7 separate regions of the Homo sapiens genome follow, and regions 2, 3, 4, 5, 6 and 7 are each linked to region 1. Evidence: fine-mapped expression QTL. A gene starts in region 1. Each other region holds a variant in brackets. All regions are shown on one strand. Distances are between the middles of the regions.

Evidence for each region. PIP is the estimated chance that this variant, and not a neighbour inherited with it, causes the effect.
Region 2: its variant is fine-mapped to the expression of CROCC in whole blood (INTERVAL, PIP above 0.99). The same link has a PIP of 0.9 or more in follicular helper T cells.
Region 3: its variant is fine-mapped to the expression of CROCC in lung (TOPMed, PIP above 0.99).
Region 4: its variant is fine-mapped to the expression of CROCC in prefrontal cortex (GTEx, PIP above 0.99).
Region 5: its variant is fine-mapped to the expression of CROCC in whole blood (INTERVAL, PIP above 0.99).
Region 6: its variant is fine-mapped to the expression of CROCC in whole blood (INTERVAL, PIP above 0.99). The same link has a PIP of 0.9 or more in T cells and prefrontal cortex.
Region 7: its variant is fine-mapped to the expression of CROCC in whole blood (TOPMed, PIP above 0.99). The same link has a PIP of 0.9 or more in blood mononuclear cells.

The regions. Positions count from the first base shown.
Region 1 is chr1:16,919,650-16,923,724 of GRCh38, reverse strand. It overlaps CROCC (ciliary rootlet coiled-coil, rootletin), which reads right to left and starts at 1,794. Exons shown (of 37, transcript NM_014675.5): 1 at 1,647-1,794; 2 at 927-1,062. The coding sequence starts at 1,706. RefSeq lists enhancers at 64-835, 836-1,607, 1,608-2,379, 2,380-3,152.
Region 2 is chr1:16,961,575-16,965,649 of GRCh38, reverse strand. All of the region lies in intron 27 of CROCC (ciliary rootlet coiled-coil, rootletin), which reads right to left. Among named protein-coding and RNA genes, the nearest start is that of MFAP2, 17 kb to the left of the region's middle. The variant G/A (reference allele first, on the strand shown) is at 2,234.
Region 3 is chr1:16,528,705-16,532,779 of GRCh38, reverse strand. No RefSeq gene overlaps it. Among named protein-coding and RNA genes, the nearest start is that of TRE-TTC4-1, 4.6 kb to the left of the region's middle. RefSeq lists an enhancer at 1-526. The variant C/T (reference allele first, on the strand shown) is at 1,722.
Region 4 is chr1:16,133,335-16,137,334 of GRCh38, reverse strand. EPHA2 (EPH receptor A2) reads left to right here. Exons shown (of 17, transcript NM_004431.5): 6 at 1,565-1,680; 7 at 2,146-2,299; 8 at 2,768-2,867; 9 at 3,420-3,475; 10 at 3,729-3,854; 11 at 3,967-4,000. Among named protein-coding and RNA genes, the nearest start is that of EPHA2-AS1, 20 kb to the left of the region's middle. The variant C/T (reference allele first, on the strand shown) is at 1,830.
Region 5 is chr1:16,940,644-16,944,718 of GRCh38, reverse strand. It overlaps CROCC (ciliary rootlet coiled-coil, rootletin), which reads right to left. Exons shown (of 37, transcript NM_014675.5): 14 at 437-619. Among named protein-coding and RNA genes, the nearest start is that of CROCC, 21 kb to the right of the region's middle. The variant T/C (reference allele first, on the strand shown) is at 2,296.
Region 6 is chr1:16,955,892-16,959,966 of GRCh38, reverse strand. It overlaps CROCC (ciliary rootlet coiled-coil, rootletin), which reads right to left. Exons shown (of 37, transcript NM_014675.5): 25 at 3,811-3,970; 26 at 1,217-1,384. Among named protein-coding and RNA genes, the nearest start is that of MFAP2, 23 kb to the left of the region's middle. The variant A/G (reference allele first, on the strand shown) is at 1,968.
Region 7 is chr1:16,518,178-16,522,252 of GRCh38, reverse strand. TRN-GTT5-1 (tRNA-Asn (anticodon GTT) 5-1) reads left to right here and starts at 1,595; the gene lies at 1,595-1,668. The variant G/T (reference allele first, on the strand shown) is at 2,256.

The DNA.
Region 1 (4,075 bases):
TGGGCAACACAGCGAGACTCTGTCTCAAAAAAAAAAAAAAAAAAAAAAAAGGTAGAATAGTAGTAACCAGATCCTCCCAGAAAAGCATCAAAGCCTCGCTCAAGAGAAGGGCTTCATGGAACTTTAAAGGCTAGGGCTCAGGAGAGCATAGCATAGGTCAGGTTGTGAGGAGAAGGAGAAAGAGAGAAGAGGGAAAGAAAGGCCAGCGGGAGAAGCGGGGTTGTCCACCTCCTGTGGGTTCCCCTTCTACCCTGGGAGAACTGGACATACACCCCAGGTGTCAGGGTGAGGGCCCTCTGAGTCTCTCCCTGTCTGGGGCTCCAGGGCGCCAACATCCCTGGCGCTCCCAAGGAGGGGGCCCGTCTGTAGCTTGGGAGTTGAACACAGACAATGGTTAGAGCACCAAAACGCCACACGCCAGCACACCAGCTGCAACTGAGTGTGCCTTTCCCAGATCCTCAAGCCACATAACTACACCGTGTGCGCCACCCACTGAGAGGAGCAGGGACCATCCGCCTTCCTGCCCACGTGGGAAACGGATGGACGGCGCCATCCACTCAGACTTCCGCAAAACCCTGGTCTGAGCTGAGCTGCCCTCTTCCTGTATCTTGGGTTCAGCCAGCTCACACCTTCCCCGGGTGGGAATACGGGATTTGGGGTTCACATCTCTGCAGCAGGCTACAGGCAAGCACGCAGGAGATGCTCGGCCCTTCCTTCTAGTTGCACCACATGCGGAATAAGTCTGGACAAATTACATCCCTGAGCCTCTGTTTCCTCATCTGTAAAATGGGTTCTTCTGTCATAAAGCTGTGCCTGCCCCACAGTGAGTTACAGTCATGATCATCATGGTGACTGCTCAGGAAAGGGACATGAGAAGAGGTAAAATGTGGGTGGTGTTTGTGGAGGGGAGCGGATGGGGGTGGCACCTGGGCTCTCAGGCTGGGAGAGGTTGCGGGTGACAATCTCCCTGATAAGGGCAGGCAGGCTGGTGATCTGAGCGTCCTGGGCCAGGTCCCGCGCGCCCAAGCCTTTCTCCTGGCACAGGACGCTGCTCTCCAGTGTCTGTGGGAAAAGCGAGAGGGTCTTCAGGGGACATGGGACCCGGGGCTCCCTGGCCTCGTGGGGAGAGCCACAGAATCCTACTGCCCAAGATACAGGTCCCCAGGAGCCCCCTCAAGATGGAGTGAAGCCTGGGAGTTAGAATCCAAAAAATCCCCATGCAAAGAGCCTCTTGTGTGCTCACTGCCCCAGGAAGAAGGCCCAGGGCCAGAGATGAGAACCAAACCCTACGGGTAACTCCCAAACCCCACTGGAGGCAGTCCAGTGTTGGGGGCCCCAATCCGGTTCCGACCCTAGATGGATGAGGATCTGGCTATGCCAGAGGTCCCCCAAGCCCTAAAATCTGGCAGTAGAGACCCCCTTCTCCCAACCCAGGGCACTGGGATGAGGGAGCCACAGCAGGTGCACCCTGTGTGTACCTCTGCCCCCCATCTTGCCAGGAACTGCAAGCGGGGGGCCCCTGTATACCCCACCACCACCACACCTCTCCCACCCCTTGATCCCCAAGACGCACACACCTCTCACCACTCCTGTTAAGTCCACGCTGCCCCGCCCCAGACAGGGTGGGCACAGCCCCCAGGACCCACCTGGATAACCGTCTCTAGTGTCAGCTCCACCTCCTGTGCCCCCGCCAGCCCCAAGCTCATGGGGGGGAGGCTGTGGGCATGCCTCCAGCCCCCTTCTCCAGGACCCCAAGACTAGCTCAGTCAGCACGCGCCACAGCCAGGATGCTGTGCTGAGCACCAGGCAGATTAAGCTTAAATCCGGCGGCGCCCCCATGTGACCACCGCGGTGGGAGGAGCAGGATGTGGGCTGAGGAGGGAGGGGATGGGAAAGGACAGGAGAGGAGGGAAGCAGAGGCAGGGAGCCAAAGGAAGAGGAAGGATGAAGAGAGGGGAGGAGAAGGGAGAGAAAAGGAGGGAGGAGAGAGAAGAGGGAATGGGAGGAGGAAACAGGGGAGACACCTGGAGGTCAGGACCTCACACACTCTTCACCCTGCGCAGGTTGCTGGGTCCTAGAGCCCTCCAAGCCCAGGGGGTGGGGTCAGTAGCCATGCGGCGGGAAAGGCCAGAGTCCTAAGTATTTGTGACCATCTTTCTGGCCCAGAACGGGAGTCACATGGTTAGCTAAGAATGAGAGGATTTACAGCATGCTGGGAGTATGTTTTCCCACAACAGGTGTAGGGCAAAGAATGCAGGCTGTGAGATCACCCAGGCCAGGCTTGGCACTTAGTTGGGCATGAGCGGTCCAGCCTGGACTGATGAGCATTTATGCAACACCTGCGGCATTCCTAGGTCTGACCTAGACACAGTGGTAGAGCCTCGAACTACAAATGCCCTAGCCTTGCCCTTCAGGCACTTATTGGGAAGCTTCTGGCCCCTTCACACCCACCCCAGCCCCCACTAGCTGGGTGCACCAGGGACACTGACTTTGCCTCTCTGAGACTCAGTGTCCTCTTACGTAAGATGTGATAATATTGGTACTCATCTCTCGGAGCCGTCCGGGGATGAAACAGTATCGTGTGTGCATACCCAGCACATGACATGGTGCTGGGGGGTCACGTGGCCAACACTCAAGAAATACTCATTTCATTCATTTGAAAATCCAGAAGGTACAGTCCCAGCCAGGCGCAGGCACTCATGCCTGTAATCTCGGCATTTTGGGAGGACAAAGCGGGTGGATCACCTGAGGTCAGGAGTTCAAGATCAGCCTGACCAATATGGTGAAACCCCGTCTCTACCAAAAATACAAAAATTAGCCGGGTGTGGTGGTGCACACCTGTAATCCCAGCTACTTGGGAGGCTGAGGCAGGAGAATCGATTGAACTCAGGAGGCAGAGGTTGCAGTGAGCCAAGATCGCGCCATTGCACTCCAGCCTGGGCAACAAGAGTGGAACTTTGTCTCAAAAAAAAAAAAAAAAAAGGCACAGTCCCTATATCCCAGGGCCCTGAGACCCAGAGGTCACCCACCACCTCCCATTGTTCTTTCCCTGGGGCAAGGAGGCTATGTGCTCTAGTGCTTAGGCGCACAGCTCTGGAGTCAGTATCAGGTCTGAGGTTGCATGTGAGACTCAGCTCTGTCACTTGCAACTATGGTGTTCAAGACAGTAAGACCTTGAACAGGTTACCTCCCTGAGCCTCAGTTTTCTCATCTCTAAAAGGAGACTAAACCAGGCCAGGTGCAGTGGCTCAAGCCTCTAATTCCAGCACTTTGGGAGGCTGAGGCGGGCAGATCACTTGAGGTCAGGAGTTTGAGACCAGCCTGGCCAACATAGTGAAACCCCATCTCTACTAAAAATACAAGAATTGGCCTGTAATCCCAGCACTTTGGGATGCTGAGGCAGGCGGATCAGGAGGTCAAGAGATTAAGACCATCCTGGCCTACATGGTGAAACCCCGTCTCTATTAAAAATACAAAAATTAGCTAGGCATGGTGGTGCACACCTGTAGTCCCAGCTACCTGGGAGGCTGAGTCAGGAGAATCGCTTGAACCTGGGAGGCAGAGGTTGCAGTGAGGCGAGATCATGCCACTGCACTCCAGCCTGGCGACACAGTAAGACTCCGTCTCAAAAATATAAATAAATAAATAAATAAATATAAAAAAAATTAGCTGGGGCGTGGTGGCATGTGCATATAATCCTAGCTACTCAGGAGGCTGAGGCAGGGGAATCACTTGAACCCAGGAGGAGGAGGTTGCAGTGAGCCGAGATTGTGCCACAGCACTCCAGCCTGGGTGACAGGGCAAGAGTCTGTCTCAAAAAAATAAAATAAAATAAAATGAGACTAGACCGAGTGTGGTGATTCAGGTCTATAATCCCAGCACTTTGGGAGGCCAAAATGGGAGAATCGCTTGAGCCCAGGAGTTTGAGACCAGCCTGGGCAACATAGCGAGACTCTGTCCTACCAAAAACAACAAAAAAATGCGACTGATAGTACCTACCACACCTGGCAGGTGGTGAGCTATTAGCCAATGGGGGCCACTGTTCCTATTGTCATTAGCATCACGTGTCTGGGCT
Region 2 (4,075 bases), 42 kb before region 1:
CTGCCTTTCCCAACAGCCCTCAGAATCAAGCCCAACTTCTCTGCTATAGCTTAGGGGTCTTCTTGCCCATCCCAGCTGAAACCCTCTCACCCTTTACAAACTGGCCACCCTGCATCTCCCATGTTCTAGAACATTCTTTGTCCCAGCTCCAGGGCCTCTGTACATGCTGCTCCCCTTCTCCCCATGGCCTCTCTTTGCCTGGCCCATCCTTTAGGGCCATCCCTCTCCCTCAGAGGCCTCTCTGGCCACAGGCTGGATTACAGTGAGCTCATCCCACCCTCAGCGGGGTCTGATGTCTGCCACCCCCACCCCGACCAGGAGCACCATGAGGGCTGGGCCTCGTCTCTTCCATCCACCACTGTTCCCAGGGCCCAGTGCAAGGGTGGTTGCTGCATCACCTCAAGTCTCTCCATACTGAGTGCCCACTGTGCTAGGCACTTCATCTTCACAACAACTTCCTGACAGGTAAGGAACAATTTACCCTCTTCCCAGGCAAGGCTGGCACAAAGCAGTTAAGTGATTTGCTTGTTCTGTTGACTGGGTGTGGTGGCTCACACCTGTAATCCCAGCACTGTGGGGTCCGAGGCAGGCGGATCACTTGAGGTCAGGAGTTCAAGGCAAGCCTGGCCAACATGGTAAAACCCCGTCTCTACTGAAAATACAAAAATTGGCCAGGTGCGGTGTCTCATGCCTGTAATCCCAGCACTCTGGGAGGCCAAGGCAGGTGGATCACCTGAGGTCAGGAGTTCGAGACCAGCCTGCCAACTAGTGAAACCCCATCTCTACTAAAAATACAAAAATTAGCTGGGCGTGGTGGCATGCACCTGTAATCCCAGCTATTCGAGAAGCTGAGGTTGGAGAATTGCTTAAACCCGGGAAGCGGAGCTCGCAGTGTTCCTAATCGAACCGCTGCACTCCAGCCTGGGTAACACAGCGAGACTCCGTCTCAAAAAAAGAAGAAAGAAAAGACTGGGAGCAGTGGCTCACACCTGTAATCCCAGCACTTTGGGATGCCGAGGTGGGCAGATCACGAGGTCAGCAGTTCGAGACCGGCCTGGCCAACATGGTGAAAACCCGTCTCTACTAAAAATACAAAAATTAGGTGTGGTGGCGGGCGCCTGTAATCCCAGCTACTCAGGAGGCTGAGGCAGGAGAATTGCTTGAACTGGGACCTGGGAGGCAGAGGTTGCAGTGAGCTAAGACTGCACCATTACACTCCAGCCTGGGCAACAGAGTGAGACTCGGTCAAAAAAAAGAAGAAAGAAGAGGAAAGAAAAGAAAAGAAAGTAAGGAAGGAAGGAAAAGAAAGGAAAAGAAAAGAAAAGAAAAGAGAAAAATTAGCTGAGCATGGTGGCCCACGCTTATAGTCCCAGCTACCTGGGAGGCTGAGGTCTGGAGGCTGAGGCAGGAAAAGCACTTGAACCCTGGAGACAGAGGTTGTAGTGAGCTGAGACTGTGCTGCACTCCAGCCTGGGCAACAGAGAGAGACTCTGTCTCAAAAAAAAAAAAAAATAAAGAAAAAAGAAAAGAAAAGAAAAAGAAAAAAGTGGGCCCGGCACGGTGGCTCAGACCTGTAATCCCAGCACTCTGGTGGGAGGCCGAGGCGGGCAGATCACCTGAGGTCAGGAGTTCAAGACCAGCCTGGCCAACATGGTGAAACCCCCATCTCTACTAAAAATACAAAAAATTAGCTGGGTGCAGTGGTGCACGCCTGTAGTCCCAGCTACTCAGGAGGCTGAGGCAGGAGAATCGCTTGAACCCAGCAGGCGGAGGTTGCAGTGAGTCGAGATCGCGCCATTGCACTCCAGCATAGGCAATAGAGCGAGACTTGGGCTCAAAAAAAAACAAAAACAAAGTGATTTGGTTGTTCTCAATGCTGGGAAGTTTCAGGGCTGAGATGGGAATCCAGGCAGCCCGACTCCCTGGCAGCACTCCTGCTTGGAGTGATGGCCCGGGGAGGTGGAGGGGGCAGGGCGGGTGGAACCAGGGCACTACCTGGAGGCTGGCACTGGAACTGCAGGACACGGGTCCTGCCATGAGCATCCTGCCTTGGCCGCAGAGGGACACCAAAACTGCTCCGCAGCCATGAACTTGGTCACCACCCAAAAGGCCTCGCTCAGAGGTTCCCAAAGAAGCAGGCCTGCCCCTGGGGGCCTCCAGCTCTAGAAGGTCCCATCGTCTCAGGGTAAAAGTCCCCGTAGAGGCCTATAATGTCTATTGGAGCAAGCCCTTC[G/A]TCCCCAAATCTCACCCCCCTGCTTGATGCTCTGGGACTGCTGGCCCCTGCTGTCCACAGGACAGGCGCACCTCCACTCAGGACCTCCCTACTCGCCCCGAGTCCCCCTCCCAGCTGCTCGCTCACGTTCTCCCCTTACCCATCACCTCCTCAGTGAGGCACCTGCTGCCCCCGCATGAACTGCCCTAGCCCCTACCTTGGCTTTGCCCAATTTTTTTTTTTTTTTTTTTTCTGAGACGGAGTTTCGCTCTTGTTGCCCAGTCTAGAGTGCAATGGTGCGATCTCGGCTCACCACAACCTCTGCCTCCTGGTTTCAAGAGATTCTCCTGCCTCAGCCTCCCGAGTAGCTGGGATTACAGGCGTCTGCCACCACACTTGACTAATTTTTTGTATTTTTAGTAGAGACAGGGTTTCACCATGTTGGCTAGGCTGGTCTTGAACTCCTGGCCTCGAGTGATCCACCCGCTCCGGCCTCGCAGAGTGCTGGGATTACAAACATGAGCCAACGTGTCTGGCCATTTTCATCATTTTTAAGTGTACAACTGAGCGGCATGAATTACATTCACACTGTTGTGCAGCCATCACCATCATCTGTTCCCAGATCATCCCGACTGGAGGTCAGGAGTTTGAGACCAGCCTGTCCAACATGGTGAAACCCCATCTCTCCTAAAAAAAAAAAATATACATATATATATATGTATATTTATATACACACACACACATACACAAAAATTAGCCAGGTGTGCCGGGCACAGTGTCTCATGCCTTTAATCCCAGCACTTTGGGAGGCTGAGGTGGGCAGATCACGTAAGGTCAGGAGTTCAAGACTAGCCTGACCAACATGCTGAAATCCTGTTTTTTTTTTTTTTTTTTTTTTTTTTTGAGACGGAGTCTAGCTCTGTCGCCCAGGCTGGAGTGCAGTGGCGGGATCTCAGCTCACTGCAAGCTCCATCTTCCGGGTTCACGCCATTCTCCTGCCTCAGCCTCCCGAGTAGCTGGGACTACAGGTGCCTGCCACTGTGCCCAGCTAATTTTTTTTGTATTTTTAGTAGAGACGGGGTTTCACTGTGGTCTCGATCTCCTGACCTCGTGATCCGCCCACCTCTGCCTCCCAAAGTGCTGGGATTACAGGCATGAGCCACCGCGCCCAGCCTTGAAACCCCGTCTCTACTAAAAATACAAAAATTAGCCAGGCGTGGTGGCACACGCCTGTAGTCTCCCAGCTACTCAGGGGGCTGAGGCAGGAGAATCACTTGAACCCAGGAGGCAGAGGTTGCAGTGAGCCGAGATCGTGCTACTGCACTCCAGCTTGGGCAACAGAGCAAGACGCCATCTCAAAAAAAAACAAAAAGAATAATTAAAAACAATACAGTGTAACAAGTGTAAGATTTCCACTTAGCTGTATTTGGTATCCTAAGTAACCTAGAGATGACTGAAAGTATGTGGGAGTATATGGCAGGATGGAAGCTCAGAAAATCAGATAAGGAGTCAAAGGCATTAAGAGCCCTCCAGCCCCCGGTCCAGGAAAGGCACGGTGGCTCACGCCTGTAATCCCAGTGGGAGGATCGCTTGAGTCCAGGAGTTCAAGACTAGCCTGGGCAATATGGCAAAACCCCATCTCTACTAAAAACACAAAAATTAAGCAGACATTGTAGTGCACACCTGTAGTCTCAGCTACAAAGGAGGTTGAGGTGGGAGAATCACTTGAGCCCAGGAGGCACAGGCTGCCAAGGCAGAGGGAGCCAAGATCACACTACTGCACTTCAACTGAGGTGACAGAGTGAGATCCTGTCTCAAAAGTTGAAAAAAAAGAATCACCCCACTTCCCCAAAAAAATAAGTG
Region 3 (4,075 bases), 390 kb after region 1:
GGGAGTTCAGCTTCCCTTGGGCCCTACTTGGCTCAGGCTGGGGTCGCAGATCCAGGCATTTCCAGAGGCACTGGCTTCTGAAGCAGGCGAGGGTGAACGCAGGGTGAAGGCCATTCGGCCGCCCTTCTGGCTTCAGAGTCACGCAATGCACGCGTTTCTAACGTGCAACAACACGATTAGTCGACTCAGCCTCTCCGGTTTTCTGAAGCTTTGTAGTCTGCACAGTTGTCCCGCAGAAAGCAAATGGCAACTCCTAGGGTTTAGTGATTGCTTAATCTATATAGAGATGAAAGCAAGCGATTGAGGTTGTCTCTGTGGTGCAATCGGTTAGCGCGTTCGGCTGTTAACCATAAGGTTGGTGGTTACAGACCACCCAGGGACGTGATTTTAAACGTTGGTTGTGACCAGGCGCAGTGCCTCATGCCTATTAATCCCAACGCTTTGAAAGGCTGAAGTAGGGGAAGCCTCCACTGAGCTCAGAAGTTCAAGACCAATGAGAATCCCACCTCATTTAAAAAAAAAATGCAGTTGTATCTATCTCCTCAGACCCATCAATGTATTTAAAAGTGAAAGACTGTTCCCTTGTGTCTTGTGCATCCCATGAGGACAGACAGCAGAAGGTCCCCCTCCGAGCCTCCTAGAAAATGAGATCTCTGCAGAACAAACTAGCTTGTATGTACGGGAAACAGAAAGTATTTGAAGAAACAAACTTCAAAAATTCTGCCTTGCTTTCCACAAAAATTAACCCATCACAGTCTGCCTTCAAGTGGCATCATACCTCTTCACATGACTCCTCCCCCTGCCTTTATGCTATTGTCATGCATTTTACTTTACACCTGTTATAAACCTTACAATCCATCTCTATTACTTTTGTTTCAAGAGTCAGATGTGTTTTTGTTTGTTTGTTTGTTTGTTTGTTTGTTTGTTTTTGCTTTTTTGTTGCTGGTGGTGGTGTTTTTAAGACGAGTCTTACTCTATCGGACAGGCTGGAGTGCAGTGGCACAGTCTTGGCTCACTGCAACCTCTGCTTTCCGGGTTCGAGCGATTCTCCTGACTCAGACTCCTGAGTAGCAGAGATTACAGGCTTGCGCCACCATATATGACTAATTTTTGAATTTTTCGTAGAGAGGAAGGTTCACCATATTGGCCAGGCTGGTCTCGAACTCCTGACCTCAAGTGATCCGCCTTCCTTGGCCTCCCAAAGTGCCGGGATTCCAGGCGTGAGCCATCGTGCCCAGCTAAACAGTCAGATGTTAAAATTATATATTTGCCTATGTAGATGTCATTTCTAGTGTCTTTTTTTTTTTCATCCACATTTTCATCTGGTGTCAGTTTCCTTCTGCCTGGAGGACTCCTTTAACTTGTCTATTAGGTGTCTTAAACTTGCACTATCATTCACTGATGCTCTGTTCATTTAAAAAAAAAAACTTGTTGGCCGGGTGCGGTGGCTCACGCCTGTAATCCCAGCACTTTGGGAGGCCGAGGTGGGTAGATCAGGAGGTCAGGAGATAGAGACCATCCTGGCTAACACGGTGAAACCCCGTCTCTACTAAAAATACAAAAAAATTAGCTGGCTGTGGTGGCGGGCGCCTGTAGTCCCAGCTACTCAGGAGGCTGAGGCGGAAGAATGGTGTGAACCCAGGAGGCGGAGCTTGGAACCTGTCAAAAGGCATTCTTAGCCTTAAAAGAAAAGCCAGGGACATCCCTTGCCTCAGGACTCT[C/T]GAACTTAGAAAAACCTTTCACCCTCTATGTGGATGAATAACAAGGGACAGCTTCGAATGTTCTAACTCAAAGGCTGAGGAATTGCTTTGGACCAGTGGCTTATTTCTCTAAACAGCTAGACCAGGTGGCAGCTAGGTGACCAAGAAGCTTGAGATCTGTGACTACCATCACTCTATCGTTAGACGAAACCAGTAAGTTTACCTTGGGACAACAATTACATGCCATACCACCCCACCCCCACCCCCACCCCCTGCCACCCCATGAAGTACAGTACAGAGGGTCCTAGAGGCAAAAGTACACCAATGGCTAACAGGGGGCCAGTTACTTAAATATCAGACCCTTCTGCTTGACACCCCAGATGTTACCCTGAAAGTGTCCTGATTTTTAAACCCTGCTACTCTGTTGCTGCACCTCACGTCTCAAGAAACAGATCCCAAACTCATTGACTCCTGTGTGGAAACCACGGAAGAGCTCTACTCTAGAAGGCCCAACCTTGAAGACAAGCTCTTGTCTAACCCAAATGTTGAGTGGTTTAGAGATGGAAATAGCTATATTCATGAGGGAGTAAGAAAGGAAGCTTAGCCAACAAGAAGTTTTTGAGGCCAAGGGTTTACCTTCTCAGACTTCTGTTCAAAAAGCAGAATTAGCTGCTCTAATTAGGGCCTTCCAACCATGAAAAGACTTAAGCTGGACACGGTGGCTCACGCCTGTAATCCCAGCACTTTGGGAGGCCAAGGTGGGTGGATCACCTGAGGTTGGGAGTTCTATACCGGCCTAGCCAACATGGCGAAACCCCGTCTCTACTAAAAATACAAAAATTAGCTGGGTGTGGTGGGGGTCGCCTGTAATCCCAGCTACTTGGGAGGCTGGGGCATGAGAATCCCTGAGTTTGCAGTGAGCTGAGATTGCAGTGAGCTGAGATCATGCCACTGCACTCCAGCCTGGGCGACACAGCAAGACTCCGTTTCAAAAAAAGAAAAAAAAAGAACAAAACCTCAAGAGTCAATGTGTTGACTGACTCTAAATATGGGTTCCTGGTGCTCCATGCTCATGCAGCCATAGGGAAGGAAAGGGGACTATCAAGAGCCAAGGGATCCCCCACACAACTTTACTCAGATCTTGGAACTTTTAGATGCTGTCCAACTCCCAAAGAAATAACAATTACTCACCGCAGGGGACACCAGAAGGGAGACACTTTTATTATTAGAGGAAATTCCCTGGTGGAAAGAGCAGCTAAGGCCACAGCTAAGGAAACCCTGGTATTTCAGGCTGCTGCGCTACTACCAGGTACTCCATCCGTGTCAGTGACACCATAATATACCCCTAAGGAAATTAAAGGGACTGAGTAAAAGGCTTCCAGGGAGACCCATCTGGATGGTTGCTAGAAAAGAACAAACTCTATTCCTGAGGCTGACAGATGGGAAATAATTAAACATTTTCATGATTCCTCACATTTGGGACAGGATTTTCCATTTAAATTAGTTTCCTAAATATTCTTGCGGAAGGGACTGTTCCAAACTATAAAAAGGGTTACCACTCAGGAAGCCACCCCATACCCCGATCCCTGCTTAAACCTGTACAACACCAAGGAACATACCATGGTGAAGACTGGCAGACAGACTTAAACCAGATGCCACCTTACAGGGGACTACAAGATTTGCTAGTATTTATAGACACTTTCACCAGGTGGATAGAAGCTTTCCCCACAAGGACAGGAAAAGTATTGGAAGTGTCTAAATTCTTAAAGAAATCATTCCAAGATTTGGATTACCAAAAGGTTTGCAAGGTGACAACTGACCTCACTTTACAGCTAAGGTGACCCAGTGAGGTCATGCCTCAGCCTTAGGCATTACCTATCTTCACTCCTCATGGAGATCTCAGTCTTCAAATAACATAGAAAGCCAATCGCGACATTAGCAAAACTCTTTCAGTTTGGGGGCTTGCCTGCCCTGCGTCACTATCATTGTTTCCTTGGGTTTCCCAGGAATGTACATGTGTCAGACTGCCGCCCTGCTTATAGATCTGTTTCCCTGCAAGGAAACAGGAATATGTTGCCTGTGGCTTCCAGAGTTGGAGATACATGTAGTTGCACCCCTGAGGGCTAACATTTAATTTTGGAATCAAGTGATGCAATCAGACTGGTTGTTATCATTCTGTGGTATATATTTAGTGAACACATTCATGATTGAGTTTCCTGCTTTTAGCTGGAGCAAGAAAGTTTTATAATTGTGATTTGTATGAAAAAATCATAGGCAAGGGAATGGGTGTAAAATAAACTTTATTGTCAGAGGTTTCTACAGGCTCATCCTTCAAGGAAAACGGACGTATGCTGAAGAGCTGATAAACTGTCTAC
Region 4 (4,000 bases), 790 kb after region 1:
GAGCCACTGCGCCCAGCCTGCAATTTTTTTTTTTTTTAGCTCATCACCTGTTGTTAGTGTTGCTGTATTTTATTTGTGGCCCAAGACCATTCTTCCATTATGGCCCACAGAAGCTGAAAGATTGGACACTCCTGCTCCAGAGCCGCTTCTGAGCTCTGTGACTGTGGGCAGGTTACTTAACCTCTCTGGGCCTCAATGTTCTCCCCTGTAAAGTGGGATAATAATTGAGAATTGAGACTGGGCGCGGTGGCTCATGCCTGTAATCCCAGCACTTTGGGAGGCTGAGGTGGGCAGATCACCTGAGGTCGAGAGTTCCAGACCAGCCTGACCAACATGGAGAAACCCCATCTCTACTAAAAATACAAAAAATTAGCTGGGTGTGGTGGCGCATGCCTGTAATCCCAGCTACTCAGGAGGCTGAGGCAGGAGAATCGCTTGAACCCAGGAGGTGGAGGTTGCGGTGAGCCGAGATCGCACCATTGCACTCCAGCCTGGGCAACAAGAGCGAAACTCCGTCTCAAAAGAAAAAAAAAAAAAGAAAGCATTCAGCAAAAGTTAGTTCTTCTTCTTCTTCTTCTTCTTCTTCTTCTTCTTCTTCTTCTTCTTCTTCTTCTTCTTCTTTTCTTCTTCTTCTTCTTCTTCCTCTTCTTCTTTCTTCTTCTTTTCTTCTTTTCTTCTTCTTTCTTCTTCTGTCTTCTTCTTCTTCTTTTTTTTTGAGACGGAGTTTTGCTCTTGTTGCCCAGGCTGGAGTGCAATGGCACAATCTTGGCTCACCGCAACCTCTGCATCCCGGATTCAAGTGATTCTCCTGCCTCAGCCTCCTGAGTAGCTGGGATTACAGGCATGCGCCACCATGCCCAGCTAATTTTGTATTTTTAGTAGAGACGGGGTTTCTCCATGTTGGTCAGGCTGGTCTCGAACTCCCAACCTCAGGCAATCCTCCCGCCTCGGCCTCCCAAAGTGCTGGGATTACAGGGGTGAACCACCACACCTGGCCTTTTATTATTATTATTATTATTATTATTATTATTTATGCACTCGTAAATATGGGGCACCTCTGATGTGCCAGCCCCTGTGATGGGGCCAGGGTGGAGGCCTGGGGCTCTGGCCCTGTGCTCTGGAGCTGAAAGTTTAGGATCCTAGGTTGGGATCTAAAGAGCCTGGGAGCTGGGCGTGGTGACCACGCCCATAATCCCAGCATTTTGGGAGGTTGAGGCAGGAGGATTGCTTGAGCTCAGGCATTTGAGACCAGCATGGGCAACATAGGGAGACCCCATCTCTACAAAAAATACAAAAATTAGCCAGGTACAGTAGCATGTGTCTGTAGCCCCAGCTATTCAGGAAGCTGAGGCAGGAGGATCACTTGAGCACAGGAGTTCAAAGCTGTAGTGGGCCGAGATCATGCCACTGCACTCGAGCCTGGGTGAGAGAGCGAGATCCTGTCTCAAAAAAATGAAAGAATCTGGGCTGTGGAGGATGTGGCTCCACGTCCACTTGTCCCCCCAAACCCTGCCTGCTCGTAGGCAGCTTCTTACCCACTTCCCCCACTGCCTGTCCTGCCCAGAGCCCCCCAAGGTGAGGCTGGAGGGCCGCAGCACCACCTCGCTTAGCGTCTCCTGGAGCATCCCCCCGCCGCAGCAGAGCCGAGTGTGGAAGTACGAGGTCACTTACCGCAAGAAGGTAACTCCCAGAGGGGCGGGGCTGGCTCTAGCTGGGCCGACAGCAGGGGACAGGCTGGTCACATAGATGATCACCAAACCACCCAGCCATCTGAAGAAGCACCCTTCTGCAGATGGGGAAACTGAGGCCTGGGGTCTGCCAGGGGGTTA[C/T]ATCTCCCAAGGCAGCACAGCAGAGATTTGTACGAGAGAAGACATGGCGTCCTTGGAAGAGGCAGTCAGGGTGAGGACAGGGGCAGAATTTTGGGACCCCACACACTCAGTTTGAGTCCTGGCTCATGCATTTAGTGGTTCTGACCTTGAGTGAGTCACTTAATTCCGAGCCTCAGTTTCCTCCTCTGTAAGAAGAGCCTCAAGTTTGCTAACAAAGGCAAGCCACCTTGCTAGCTTGGGGTGGTCTCCAGCGGGCTGAGCCGAGGCCCCTGCCCTGCCCTCACTGCCTGCTCCTCCGCCGGCCACCCACCCACAGGGAGACTCCAACAGCTACAATGTGCGCCGCACCGAGGGTTTCTCCGTGACCCTGGACGACCTGGCCCCAGACACCACCTACCTGGTCCAGGTGCAGGCACTGACGCAGGAGGGCCAGGGGGCCGGCAGCAAGGTGCACGAATTCCAGACGCTGTGTGAGTTGGGGGACCCTGGGCATGGACCAGGCCAGGGCCCAGAACCAAGCAATTGAGACATCTTGGGAAAGGAAGTGAATCAAATAACTTAGAAATGCCCCTTTCTCGGTCACCGGCGGCCTGGGACAGCCCTTCGGGGACTGCCCCCAAGCCTGGGGAGGGGGAAGCATGGAAGGCTGAGGGGTGGAGGAGCCGGGATGTGGATTCACGACAGTGGTGTGAGGAAGTTCAAATCCGCATCTCAGAAAAAGCCAGAGCTTTGAGCCCCACATACCTGCAATACCTCCCGTGAGACCTTCGGGAAGGCCTCCGCTTGACCGTCTATGAAATGGGACTAAGTACCCTCTGGAGCCTTCCCAAGTGCAAGCACCCAGCACACAGTAGGGGCCCAGGTGTCTTGGGTGCAGCGCGGGTGTTGCTGTAATTTGTGGGGGAACTCCCTTGTCATCAGCTGATTTCTTCCACCAGCCCCGGAGGGATCTGGCAACTTGGCGGTGATTGGCGGCGTGGCTGTCGGTGTGGTCCTGCTTCTGGTGCTGGCAGGAGTTGGCTTCTTTATCCACCGCAGGTTCGTCAGAGCCCATACCCTGGCTCCACATGGGCTTGGGTGGGAAAATGGGGCAGGAACCTCCATTTCCTCATCTGAACGATGGGGCCCACAGGATGCTAGTCGAGTCTAATCCCTGCCTCCGGATGGTGCGAGGATATACGAGTTAGAGTGTGTAGCGAAGTGCCTGGCACGCGGCGGGGCCGGGACACGGGGGTCATTACCTCTGCTCTTGTTGTTATTAATGATGTGTCCACACTTCCTCTGGACACGCAGGCAGGAATCCCCGAGTAGCTCTAATGGGAATGCCTTCGTCACGACTGCTTAAGGGGCCATTCTGGGGCCTAGATCCTGGAGAGGGAGTCCTGGCTCGCTCACTTCCTCCCTGTTCCTCCACCCGCCTTCTCCGCACCCTCGGCCCTGAGAGTGGAGCTTGGGCAGCAAAAGCGGGGACTGGGCCGCATTCTGAGCACCCCAGGTCCTCCTAGGACCAAAGTAGGGCCAGGAGGCTTCCCTGGCCGGAGCAGACCTCACTGACCTCCCTGCATTTGGTTCCCCGTGGGGCTCTTTCAGGAGGAAGAACCAGCGTGCCCGCCAGTCCCCGGAGGACGTTTACTTCTCCAAGTCAGGTGAGACGCAGCCCCCGCTCCAGGCCCAGCCCTGCCCGCACCGTCCCCAGCTCTGTGGGGGAGGTGGGGGCAGCCAGGGTGTTCCCAGGGCACTGGGGTGGGGCCACAGGCTTCCGTGGGCAGCTCTGAGGGGTCCGTCCCCCACAGCCTGGTCCAAGTCTCTGAAGATCACGTGACCTTCTCCTCTGACTCCAGAGCACCCCCCATGGGGCCCCTCCTGAGCTGCCTGTGACCCCACCCCTTCTCCTTCCAGAACAACTGAAGCCCCTGAAGACATACGTGGACCCCCACACATATGAGGACCCCAACCAGGCTGTGTTGAAGTTCACTACCGAGATCCATCCATCCTGTGTCACTCGGCAGAAGGTGATCGGAGCAGGTGAGGTTGGCCCCCTGCCAAGGGGCCCTGAGGAGGCAGCGGTGGTGACACAGTGTGGGAGCCCTCATGCCGGGGCTGACCAGGGCACTCCCCTGACCCTGTCTGCCCACAGGAGAGTTTGGGGAGGTGTACAAGGGCATGCTGAA
Region 5 (4,075 bases), 21 kb before region 1:
CTTCTCTGTGCCTCAGTTTACCATCCACAAAATGGAGATAACCGCTTCTATGTCACAGAGTTATCATGGAGTTAAATGAGAGAACTGAATTGCTTAAAATGGTATCTGGCACTTAGTGAAATTAGTAAGGATATTATTATTCTTCTAACTAAATTTTTAAAATACTACTGCTAATATTACTACTGTTATTTTAATTATTCTTGTTATTATCATCCAAGTTCTACCTTTTAACTAGTTCTCTGACTCCAGGTAAGTGACTATACCTCCCTGAGCCCCAGTTTCCTGAAATGGGTCTGGTTAGAAAACCCGACATCGGAGGGGTCCAGACGGTAGGAGGCCCAGGACCCAGTGGGTGTCACCTAACCCCAGGGGGGCACTGTCAGGGGACCCGAGGCACATCTGAAGGGTCCTGGCAGGGTGGCGAGATGCTGCTCACCTGCGCTCAAGCTCCCGGCGCACCCGCGCGCCATCCTGCACTGCGTCCTCCTGCTCTTCCTCCAGCCGGTCCCGCTGGCGCCGCAGCTCCTCCTGGGCAGCCTGCAGCTTCTCCCGCTCCTGCCGCAGCTCCTCGGCCTGCTGCTGGGCCACCTGCAGGCTGTGGGCCAGGTTGCTCTTCTCCCTTCAGGACAAGGGGAGGGGGAGCAGAGGGGATGCTGGGGCTGCTCTCTGCAGGGAAGGTGGCTGGCTGCTCCTCTAGCCATGAGCTACATCCTCCAGTCTTCCAAGGCACCTGCCTCCAGGAAGCCTTCCCTGACCACCCTGTCCATGGCTGACTCATTTCACTCACACACTCCAGCAGAAGAACCTGGCTTTCCTTCTCTCCAGTCCGCCCACTTGGAGTGGATGGAGGTGCTGGTGTGATCTCCAAGCACCCTACCAGGTAGAAGAGGCCGAGCTAGGCTCCTGGGACACACGGCAATTGTGCCACCAGCTCTGCTAGGCCATGTGACCAGGAAATGTCCCCTATAACACCCCATGCCCCTCAATTCTGGGAAGCCTGATAGAGCTGAGTCTGCAGATCCCACAGCTTCCTGCTACACAGGCACATGGTGGCCACGGCAGGGGAGGGAGGAGAAGGGAACAACTGGGACCCCAAAGACTTGCCATGAGCTGCCACGTTCCCCACTGGCCATAGGTGCGAAAAAACTTCACAGCGTGATTTTGTTTTATTTTTTTTTTTTGAGACGGAGTCTCGCTCTGTCCCCCAGGCTGGAGTGCAGTAGCGCAATCTCCACTCACTGCAAGCTCCGCCTCCCGGGTTCACGCCATTCTCCTGCCTCAGCCTCCCAAGTAGCTGGGAATACAGGCGCCCGCCACCATGTCCGGGTAATTTGTTGTATTTTTAGTAGAGATGGGGGTTTCACTGTGTTAGCCAGGATGGTCTCAATCTTCTGACCTCATGACCTGCCCGCCTCGGCCTCCCAAAGTGCTGGGATTACAGGCATGAGCCAATGCGCCCAGTAATTTTTTTTTTTTTTTAGACGGCATCTCACTCTGTCGCCCAGGCTGGAGTGCAGTGCACGATCTCGGCTTGCTGCAACCTCCACCTCCAGAGTTCAAGCGATTCTCCTGCCTCAGCCTCCCAAGTAGCTGGGATTACAGCCATGTGCCACCACGGATGGCTAATTTTGTATTTTTAGTAGAGACAGGGTTTCTCCATGTTGGTCAGGCTGGTCTCGAACTCCCGACCTCAGGTGGTCCTCCTGCCTCGGCCTCCCAAAGTGCTGGGATTACAGGAGTGAGCCACTGTGCCCGGCCAATTTTTTTTTATTTTTAGTAGAGATGGGGTTTCGCCATGTTGGCCAGGCTGGTCTCAAACTCCTGACCTCAAGTGATCCACCCGCCTTGGCCTCCCAAAATACTGGGATTACAGGTGTGAGCCACCTCGCTCAGTCGACAATGTGCTGTTAAGTAAAAATAGCAGAATGCAAAATGGGATGTTTGCTGTGAACACAACTGCTTAAAAAGACCTTCTCCTTTCCAGGCATGGAAAGCTTGGGTTTACTCTCACATGGACCTGAATTCCAGTTCCCACCCTGCCACCCCCAGCCACACACGCTGTATGAGTCTGAGCCAGTCTCTCAAGCTTACAACAACAGAGTTCCGAATTGCATGAGTTTGACAGGAAGACTAAATCACAGAGTACATACAAAACACTCGGCCAAGAGCCTGGCACACAGTAGGTGTGCAGGAAACGTTTGCTATCTCACTGCCAGGCAACACAATGGGAAGGAAAACCAGTGCCCTAAATGAATTAGGATGGGCAGATGAGGCTGTGAGAAGGCGCTGTCTTTT[T/C]ATTCCTATTTTTCAAACTTTTCATTAGATGGTTACATTTATGAAGAGAAAAACCAAACAACAAAATATCAAAAACAACCTGGCAGCTAAGAAGTGGATAATTTCTTGTCTTAAAAATCTTCAGGGTGCCTGGCGTGATGGCTCACACCTATAATCCCAGTACTTTGGGAGGCCGAGACGGGCTCAGGAGTTAGAGATCAGCCTGGGCAACATGGCGAAACCCTATCTCTACAAAAAACAGAAAAATTAGGCAGGCGTGGTGGTGTGTGCCTGTAGTTCCAGCTACTCAGGAGGCTGAGATGGAAGGATCACTTAAGCCTAGGAGGTGGAGGTTGCAGTGAAATGAGATCGCACCACTGCACTCCAGACTGGGTGACATAACAAGACCCTGTCTCAAATTAAGAGAAAAAAAAAATCTTCAAGGCTAGGCATGGTGGCTTATGCCTCTAATCCCAGCATTTTTGGAGGCCGAGGCAGGGGAATCACTTGAGGCCAGGAGTTTGAGACCATCCTGGGCAACACAGCAAGACCCCATCTCTAAAAAAAACTCCAAGAAATACAGTCCAAAATAGTGCTGGCAATAGAACTCGCTGAGATGACAGAAATGTTCTATGGCCATGTATGGTTGATGAGTGCTTGAAATGTGGCTAGGGCAACTAAAGAACTGAATTTTTTCTTTTTTTTTTTTTTTTGAGACGGAGTCTTGCTCTGTCGCTCAGGCTGGAGTGCAGTGGCGCCATCTCGGCTCGCTGCCAGCTCCGCCTCCCGGGTTCAGGCCATTCTCCTGCCTCAGTCTTCCAAGTAGCTGGGACTATAGGTGCCTGCCACCACGCCCAGCTAATTTACTTTTTGTATTTTTAGTAGAGACGGGGTTTCACTGTGTTAGCCAGGATGGTCTCAATCTCCTGACCTCATGATCCGCCCGCCTTGGCCTTCCAAAGTGCTGAGATTACAGGTGTGAGCCACCGGGCCCAGCATTATTATTATTATTTTTTTTTTGAGATGGAGTCTCGCTCTATCTCCCAGCCTGGAGTGCAGTGGCACGATCCTGGCTCATTGCAACCTCTGCCTCCGGGGTTCAAGTGATTCTCCCACCTCAGCCTCCTGAATAGCTGGGATTACAGGAGCATGCCACCATGCCTGGTTAATTTTTGTATTTTTAGTAGAAACAGGGTTTCACCATGTTGGCCAGCAAGCTGGGTGTGAGCCACCACACCCAGCCTGAATTTTCACTTTTTAAAAATTTTAATTAAATTTTAATAGAGCCAGGCACAGTGGCTTATGCCTGTAATCCCAGCAATTTGGGAGGCTGAGGTGGGAGGAGTGATTGAAGCTAGGAGTTCAAGACCAGCATGGGCAACATAGTGAGACCCCCATCTCTACAAAAAATTTAGAAATGTTGGCGGCTTGTCTACTATCCTCGAGGCTGAGATCAGAGTTGCCCAGGAACCCAGGGAGGTGAGGGCTCAGAGGGTGGTGAGGGCACAGAGGAAGGGAGTGGAAACCTAACTCTCAGGCTTCGGTCCCATATCCTTCCCCAGGCCAGGCCCAGGCCCCCAACTAGGGGCAGTTGGGAGGTAGAGGTGGGAGGATCGCTTGAGTCTGGGAGTTCCAGGTTACAGTGAGCTGTGATGGACCAATTGTGCCCCAGCCTGGGAAACAGAGCAAGAGTGTGACTCAAAACAAAGCAAAACAAAACAAAACAAAACAAAACTGAATACTAAAAAATAAATGTTGGCCGGGCGCGGTGGCTCATGCCTGTAATCCCAGCACTTTGGGA
Region 6 (4,075 bases), 36 kb before region 1:
TTTTTTGTTTTTTGTTTTTAATAGCTTGACAGCAGCTTATTAATCACATGTACTCACAGCCCTGGGGGGTGGGGGAAAGGCGGGGAGGCATACCACACGGGGCCACACGGGGGCTGTGGGCTGCACTTGAGAACACAGTGAACAGCCAGGAAGGTTAAGTGCCCACTGGTTCCAAAGGGAGCTGTGTCCAGAGGCTGTTCCCTTAACCACTAGGCTACATTGCCGCCCTTGCCCATAATTTATCAATAAATTTGCACACAATGGGGGCATGCACTAAAATATCATTTCCTGATGGGATGCATGGTCACACAGACACAAAGCCACCCCTGCCATTTAGAGAGTCAACCTCTCACGGTCACCAGTTTCACTGGAAACCCATCTACTGAGCAGCTGGTTGCCAGGACCTGTGCCAGGGCCCTTCATACATGCTCGGCTGTGCTAGCCCATCTCTCATGAGCGCTCTGAGGCACAGAGATGACGTGACTTGGTTCAGGCCACACAACAGATTCATGGCAATGAAACAGCCGGAAAAGGCAGAGCGGGTAGCCTGTGGGCTTTGGAGTCAGACAGACTTAGGTGGCTGTGTGACCTTGGGTAGATCCCTCGACCTCTCTGAGGGCTCTGTAAAATGGGGCTAATGGTAGGAAGGGTGTGGTGGCTCACACCTGTAATCCCAGCACTTTGGGAGGCCGAGGCAGGTGGATCACCTGAGGTCAGGCGTTTGAGACAAGCCTGACCAACATGGTGAAATCCTGTCTCTACTAAAAATACAAAAAATTAGCTGGGCGTGGTGGCAAGCACCTGTAATCCCAGATACTCGGGAGGCTGAGGCAGAAGAATTGCTTGAACCCAGGAGGCGGAGGTTGCAGTGAGCCGAGATGGTGCCAGCGCACTCCAGCCTGGGCGACAGAGTGAGACTCCATTTCAAAATAAATAACTAAATAAAAAGGGCTAACAGTACCTACCCCATAGGGCTGCTGGGGAAATCAAACAAGGTTGTATCTACAGGGCCTCTCCCTACCCATTTTGTGCCGGCACACAGTAGGCCCACTGTTCTTTGGGTTGTTGTTACTACAACTGGGGAAGAGTCTCAAGGAGTGGGGGAAGGAGCAAGCCCTAGGGAGTGGCCTTTCAGAATGGCCCCAGCATTGGGGTGCCCACCTGCTTCCTGCTGGGGGAAGGAAAGATGCACCAGCCTGCCCGCCTGCTCAGTTACCTCCTGCCGCATCACCTCCAGGCTGGCCTCGCCCTTCAGCAGCCTCTGCCGGAGGCCCAGGGTCTCCCGCCTGCTCTCCTTCTCTGCCCGCTCGCCCAGCGCCAGGCGGCCCTGCAGCTCCGCCAGCTCCCGGCCCAGTCTGGTGTTCTCACTGTCCAGCATCTTCATCTGTGAGAGCACGGGAATGGCAGCAGGTTCAGCTCTGCCCCTGTACCCTCCCAGTTCTGGCCCAAGGCCACTTGGTACCTACTGCTGTAGGGACACATGTATCAAATACCACCCCACATCCACTGGGAGCCGGCCCCTACACAACCACACTGAACTTGGGCGATGCCAGGCACTTGGGCACCAGTGGCCTGTTTACCACTTAATCAATGGGCCAAAACTACCTTTCATAAAGGGGTGGGTATAATAGAAGGAGGGCTCAGCCCTTAGCAGACCAGGAGTTCACAGGCAGGAACCACAGCTCCCTGGGTTATCTTTCCCCTCTACGATGGCGATGAACGTTTTTGGAGCGCTTACCATGTGTCCAGTCCTGTTCTAAGCACTTCAGTTATATTAACTCGTTTAATCTTGGTACAATGCTATATGAGGTAGGTAGTAACATTATCCCTATCTAACAGATGAGAAAACTGAGCCTCAGAGTGTCAGAGTAACCTCCCCAAAGTCACACAGCCCACACACACCAGACTGGGATTCGATCTGAGACAACGGCAATGTTCTAAGCCCCTATTTCCCCACAGGAGCAGGG[A/G]GGGGTACTGCCTACCTCCCCCATGTGCTACAGCAGGGGTAACAGGAGAGGCCGTAGCATGCAACGCGTCCAGCAAAAGCTGGCACGCAAATGCCAGCTCCTTTCCGGGAGTCTTGTGGTTTCTCAGGAAGGGGCCTGGGTGAAGGGGGCTGTGGTATCTCTGGCTATCAGAGTATCAGAATATCTCTGGCTATCCAGTTGTGATCTCTTTTTTTGTAATTAAAAACAATTTTTTTAATTAAAAAAATTTGGGGGGGCCAGGCATCGTGGCTCATGCCTGTAATCCCAGCACTTTGGGAGGCCAAGGTGGGTGGATCACCTGACATCAGGAGTTCGAGACCAGCCTGGCCCACATGGTGAAACCCTGTCTCTACTAAAAATACAAAAAAATTAGCCAGGTGTGGTGGCGGGCATCTGTAATCCCAGCTACTTGGGAGGCTGAGTCAGGAGAATTACTTGAACCCGGGAGGCGGAGGTTGCAGTGAGCCGAGATTGCGCCACTGCACTCCAGCCTGGGCAACAAGAGTGAAACTCCATCTCAGAAAGTAAATAAATAAATAAAATAAAAATTAAAAGTTTAAAAACTTTTTTTAGAGTCAGGGTCTTGCTTTGTCGCCCAGGCTGGAGTGCGGTGATGCGATCACAGCTCACTGCAGCCTTGACTTCCTGGGCTCAAGGGATACTCCCACCTCAGCCTCCCAAGTAGCTGGGACTCCAGGAGCGTGTCACCACACCTAGCTATTTTTTAAATTTTTTGTAGAGACTGGTTCTCACTATGTTGCCTGGGCTGGTCTTGAACTCCTAGGCTCAAGCAGTCCTCCCAACTTGGCCTCCCAAAGCATGAGATTAAAGGCATGAGCCATCACAGCTGGCTAATTTTTCGTATTTTTAGTAGAGACAGGTTTTCACCATGTTACCCAGGCTGGTCTCGAACTCCTGGGCTCAAGCAATCCACTGGCCTCCGCCTCCCAAAGTGCTGAGATTATAGGTGTGAGCCACTGCGCCTGGCCTGGTTGTGATATCTCTGGGTGAGGCAGCGCCTAGGGGCTGAATGAGGCCATTTCCTGTTCTTTGCATCTTCTAGAGTGAGAAGCCTGAACCCACAGTGTCCAGGCCAGTGCCCAGTAGACAGCAGGTGCTTCTTCAATACATGCTGCTGTTGAGTTTGCAGATCATCGAATTCACGGGTCAGCGAACTACAGCTCACAGGCCAAATTCAGCCCATCTCCCGTTTCTACAAGGGTCTGAGTTAAGGATTTTTTTTTTTTTTTACATTTTTAAATCATCGAAAATGGATCATTTCTAAAGGAAGAACAACATTTCTTGACACATGAAAATGACAGAAAATTCACATTTCAGTGTCCCTAAACAAAGTTTTACTGGAACCCACACCCCTCTGTTCATGCACTGTTTGGGACTGCTTTCTCACTACCCCAGCAGAGTCAAGTAGTTGCAACAGAGACTGTGTGGCCCGTAAAGCTGGAAATATTGACCATTTGGGCTCTTTACAAAAAACCATTTGCCAACCTCTGACCTAGTTCACAAAATCTGTACCTTTTGTTGTTTGCAGATTCCTTTGAGAACTGGACAAGGACACCAGCTCCTCTCCTTGCAGAAATGTGAGCCTGAGTGTGCACACAAATGCACGCAGACTTTTGCACAGTTTCAGGGATTCAAGGACTCCTCAAAGCCCATCCATTCACACCAAGGTTAGGTGAGAGGGCTTGTCATAGTTCAAGCCCCTGGTTTTACATAGGGGTAGAAACGTAATTCCAGAAAGGGGGAGCTATTGGCCCGGGGCACACAGCAAGCCCCAGGCTAAGGGGTGGCACAGGGAGAGTACCTGACGCCGGAGCTCCTGCAGCTCCCGCCGAGCCTCCAGCCGTGAGCGCTCCACCTCCTGCAGCCCAGTTCGCAGCTCCCCGGCCTCCTTGCCCACAGCTGTCCGTGCCTCCTCTAGGAGTGCCAGCTTCTGCTCCTTGTCCTCATTGGCAAGCTTCAGGCTGGAGAGGGCAGAGGTCAGGGGCTGCCCTGGGTCCTGGGAGTAGTCAGTGGCTCTACACAAAAGCCGTCTCCTCCAATTTCTGGAGTGGATCAGGCACTGCCTG
Region 7 (4,075 bases), 400 kb after region 1:
CCTACACAAAGAAACGAATATTGGAAATGGCATTTAGAAAGCATGTACTACACGTTTTCTTATAATTTAAATCTTTCAAAAAATATTTGACGTAACAAATAAAAGTAATAATAATGAATCACAAAGGTTATAGTGCATAAAGTAAAGATACATAACACTAGGATAAAGGCCAGAAAGGGAGGCATAATGACACTAGAAAGCAGACTATGATAAATTAAAGATGTATTCCGGAAACCCTAAAGCAGCCTCTGAAATAAGAAAACGGTTATAGCTAATAAAGCAACAAAGGAAAGAAAACGGAATGAAATAAAAGCTATGTAAACACTATGCTGGAACAACTACTCTCCAGGCCTCCACCCTATAGAAATACACCAGTGGCCAATGAGAGTGTACAAGAATGATGACTGCAGCATTACTTGTAATCATAAAATGATAAAACCAACGTAATTTTAAAGATATAGGAAAAGGGTTTTATTTATTTAACGGACAGACAATTGAACAAGCAAACAATGGGAGCAAGTCCTTTGCCAAAAGGAACACAGAGGGTCATGATGATGCTACTCCTCCAAGGATTTCAGAGTTCCCAGACGCCTAGTTTTCTGTCTAGTTCTTCTGGAAGATGTTATTCTTGGGGAGCAATAGGTCCTCGAGTTTGGGGCTCTTTCAGGTTCTCTCTCCATTTCCCCATTCTACTACAATAAACAAACAAACAAACAAAACAATTCTCACTTCCAGAAGATCCTGCCTGTGCCCCTTCATGAGCCTTTCAGGAGGTCTGGATGTCTGGTCCACCGCTCCCCGGCTTCTTTCCCAGCTTTTGCTTTTTCCTTTCCCAGCTCTTGACCTACCACCCCACGGCCGCACCACCGCCCAGCTGAGCCCCCGTGGCTCCACCGCGCAGAAGGTGCGCCAGAGACCCTGCCAGTTGCCCTCCCTGCCGGGTGCCGAGAAATCAACGCTTTGTAAAAAGAACTTCCCCGTGGAAAAAATCTCTTGATTTCCACTCTCAGGGCTCTTCAAAGGACTAAAAGCTAAAGGCGACGATGAATTCATTCCACAAGTCCTAGTCGTGCGCCCTGGTGAGTACCAGACCCTGCTCCCCGCGAGGGGACCCACGAGCGACCCTCACCACCATCCCTGCCCTGGTGGAGCCCCCGTGCGGAACACAGGATCCGAAGATGGCAGCGGAAGCTCCTCAGCGGCCCGGAAAGCGACTGGGCAGGGTGGGCACAGGCTCCTTCAATGGGTGAAGGCGGCGCAAAGAACGGGAAGAACCATCCCAGGAGCCCACAGGGCGTTCAGCTTCCCTTGGGGCCCCAGGCAGCTCGGGCTGGGTCGCCCACCAGGGAGTTTCTGGAAGCTTCTGCAGCAGGCGAGGGGCAGGGCGGGCGAAGGCAATTCTGCTGTTCTTCTGGCTCCAGAATCTCCTAACACGCAGGCGTCCAACGTGACCGGCGCGACTCACCGCTCTAATCTCTCTGGTTTTCCAAGGCCTTGCTCAGTGGTCCTGCCCGGTGGGCCCTGAGAATAGACGGAACGGAGGAAGTTCAGTGAGTGCGCCCTTCCTAGATGCCCAGTAGAGTTGGAAGCGCTTGTCTCTGTGGCGCAATCGGTTAGCGCGTTCGGCTGTTAACTGAAAGGTTGGTGGTTCGAGCCCACCCAGGGACGCTTATTGGAACTTTTGAAGCATTCACGCAATGTCAATCACTAGATAAATGGGGAAGATTTTATCTTCCCAAAGTCTCAAGCCACTAATTTATGACAGATCCATGTCAAGGGCCGCCCACCTCCCCGACCAGATTCTTAGCCGGCTATCTCCTGAAATGCCGGGTTTACACCTGTGTCACTAAGGAATCCTGAAACAGAGACCTAGGAACCCACTTCTGATGTGATAAAATTCTAATTCAGTCCGTTATACGCTTAAACGAGTATTTACGTGTCTCCATTTTTTCATATTTTAGTAATAGGAGTCCAGTATTACCTCCAGGATGTGCCTGGGTTTCCTGATTGCTCTATCAATAATGTGACCAGTGGAATCATTCATCATGAAAGTGATTCTCTCCATCATTTTTGAAAATAGTATTTTTCCTCAGTTTATGCATGATTTATTTAACCCTTTTCAAAATGTTTTTGTTAGCCAGGTATGGTGGCATGCACCTGTAATCCCAGCTACTCGGGAGGCTGAGGCAGGAAAATCGTTTGAACTTGGGAGGTGGAGGCTGCAGTGAGCTGAGATCACACCGCTGCACTGCCTG[G/T]GTATCAGAGCGAGACTCCATCTCAAAAAAACAAAATGTTTTTGAGATGACTTTAGTTTCATAGTTTTAGGATTACAAAGAATGCTGCAGTCACCAGTCCTGTACAGATATCTTTGGTCATTGTGGAAATGTTTACCCTGCAGACATTTCTATAGTGTAGAGAGCTGGATGTGCCATTGCTACATTATAGTGCTTGTATAATGCTTCTAATCTGAGTCCATTCTGCAAATGTATCTTTCACGGGAGCAGTACCAAATAATATTCCAATATGAATGTTTATAAGAGGAAAAATGTGCAGATGTGCAGTTGAGCTGCGTGCCTCTCCATGGGGCTCATGTTCATAAAATGGTGGCGTTAGCAATCATCTGAGAGTGGAGTTTGTGGCCCTCTGACGTCAAAATCTGAGGCAATGGACATGAAAACCCTCACTGTACATCCTCTGTAGTCTGGCCAGAATGATTCCTAGGTCGGTGGTCTCTTATCAGGAGGGAATGCTGCTTGCTTGTTTTGTCAAAACCACAAAAGGGAGGGAAAGCATCAGGCTGTTGGTTGATAACAGCAGTGAAGCAAGTCTCTCCAAAGGCTTGGATTGTTAACCCTTAGGAAAAAAAATCCTAATTCTTGCCAGATGGTGCCGTGCATTTCCAGGCTCTTGGTGTCCCAAACAAAGAACTGTACATGACACACACAAAGCAGCAAAGCAAAGCAAAATTTATTAAGCACAGTAACAGTCTCAGAGTGGGGAGAGTGGGCTGATCTCTGGGATGTGAGATCAGTATTAGTTTGGTGTACGTTGGGTCTTTTTATGTGTGTTTCTTTCTCTTCTCTTCCCAAGGATGCCTAATCGTTAGCCAGTGTTTGCCTTTTGATTGATAGGTGGGTTGCTTAGTTACTTTGGCCCTTGTGTGCTTGCACATTGCCTCCATCCCATAATTTTAAGTACATGCATGATGTGCAGTCCATATGCATGAGTTTTAATGAGCTGATTATCATATGGAGTCATGTTAAGGATACTTTTTTTCTCTAATGCACATGCCTATCTCTGAGGAGCTGCCCCTTTACTGGTTTGGATCTCACCGGCCATGGGGTCCTGGCTTGCTTTTCTTTTTTTTTTTTTTTTTTGAGACAGAGTCTCGCTCTGTTGCACAGTCTGGAGTGTAGTGGTGCAATCTCGGCTCACTGCAACCTCTGCCTCCCGGGTTCAAGCGATGCTCCTGTCTCAGCCTCCCAAGTAGCTGGGAGTACAGGAGTGCACCACCACGCCCAGCTAATTTTTTGTATTTTTAGTAGAGATGGGGTTTCGCCATGTTGGCCAGGCTGGTCTCAAACTCCTGACCTCAGGTGATCTGCCTGCCTTGGCCTCCCAAAGTGCTGGGATTACAGGCATGAGCCACCGTGCCCAGCCTTGCTTGCTTTTTTAAATCTTACTTTTTGTTTTGGCTGCTCAACTTCTGCCTTATATCTTGCTTCTTGCTCTCCCACCCCATCACCTTGCTTCTTTCTCTGCTTTCACTCACTCTGCCTTTTATCCAACTTCCAATTCCCTCTGCTGTTCTCCTGCATCATAATGGCAGTTAGTGAGGGGAGGGTTTTGAGGTGGCATGTCCAACCTCCTAGCCTGCCACATCCAGAAACTGCTTTCGAAGTTTCTCTGTGGTCCTGTCAGCCAAGAGGGAGTCCATTCAGTTGGTTGTAGGGCCTAGGGCTTATTTTTATTTCTCAAACCTGACAAGATAAAGCTGGATTAATGCAGATTCTCTGCAGGTGTAAATTTCCCCTACAAAAGACAGTTTTGCAGAGTTCCTTCTGTTTGCTGGCTC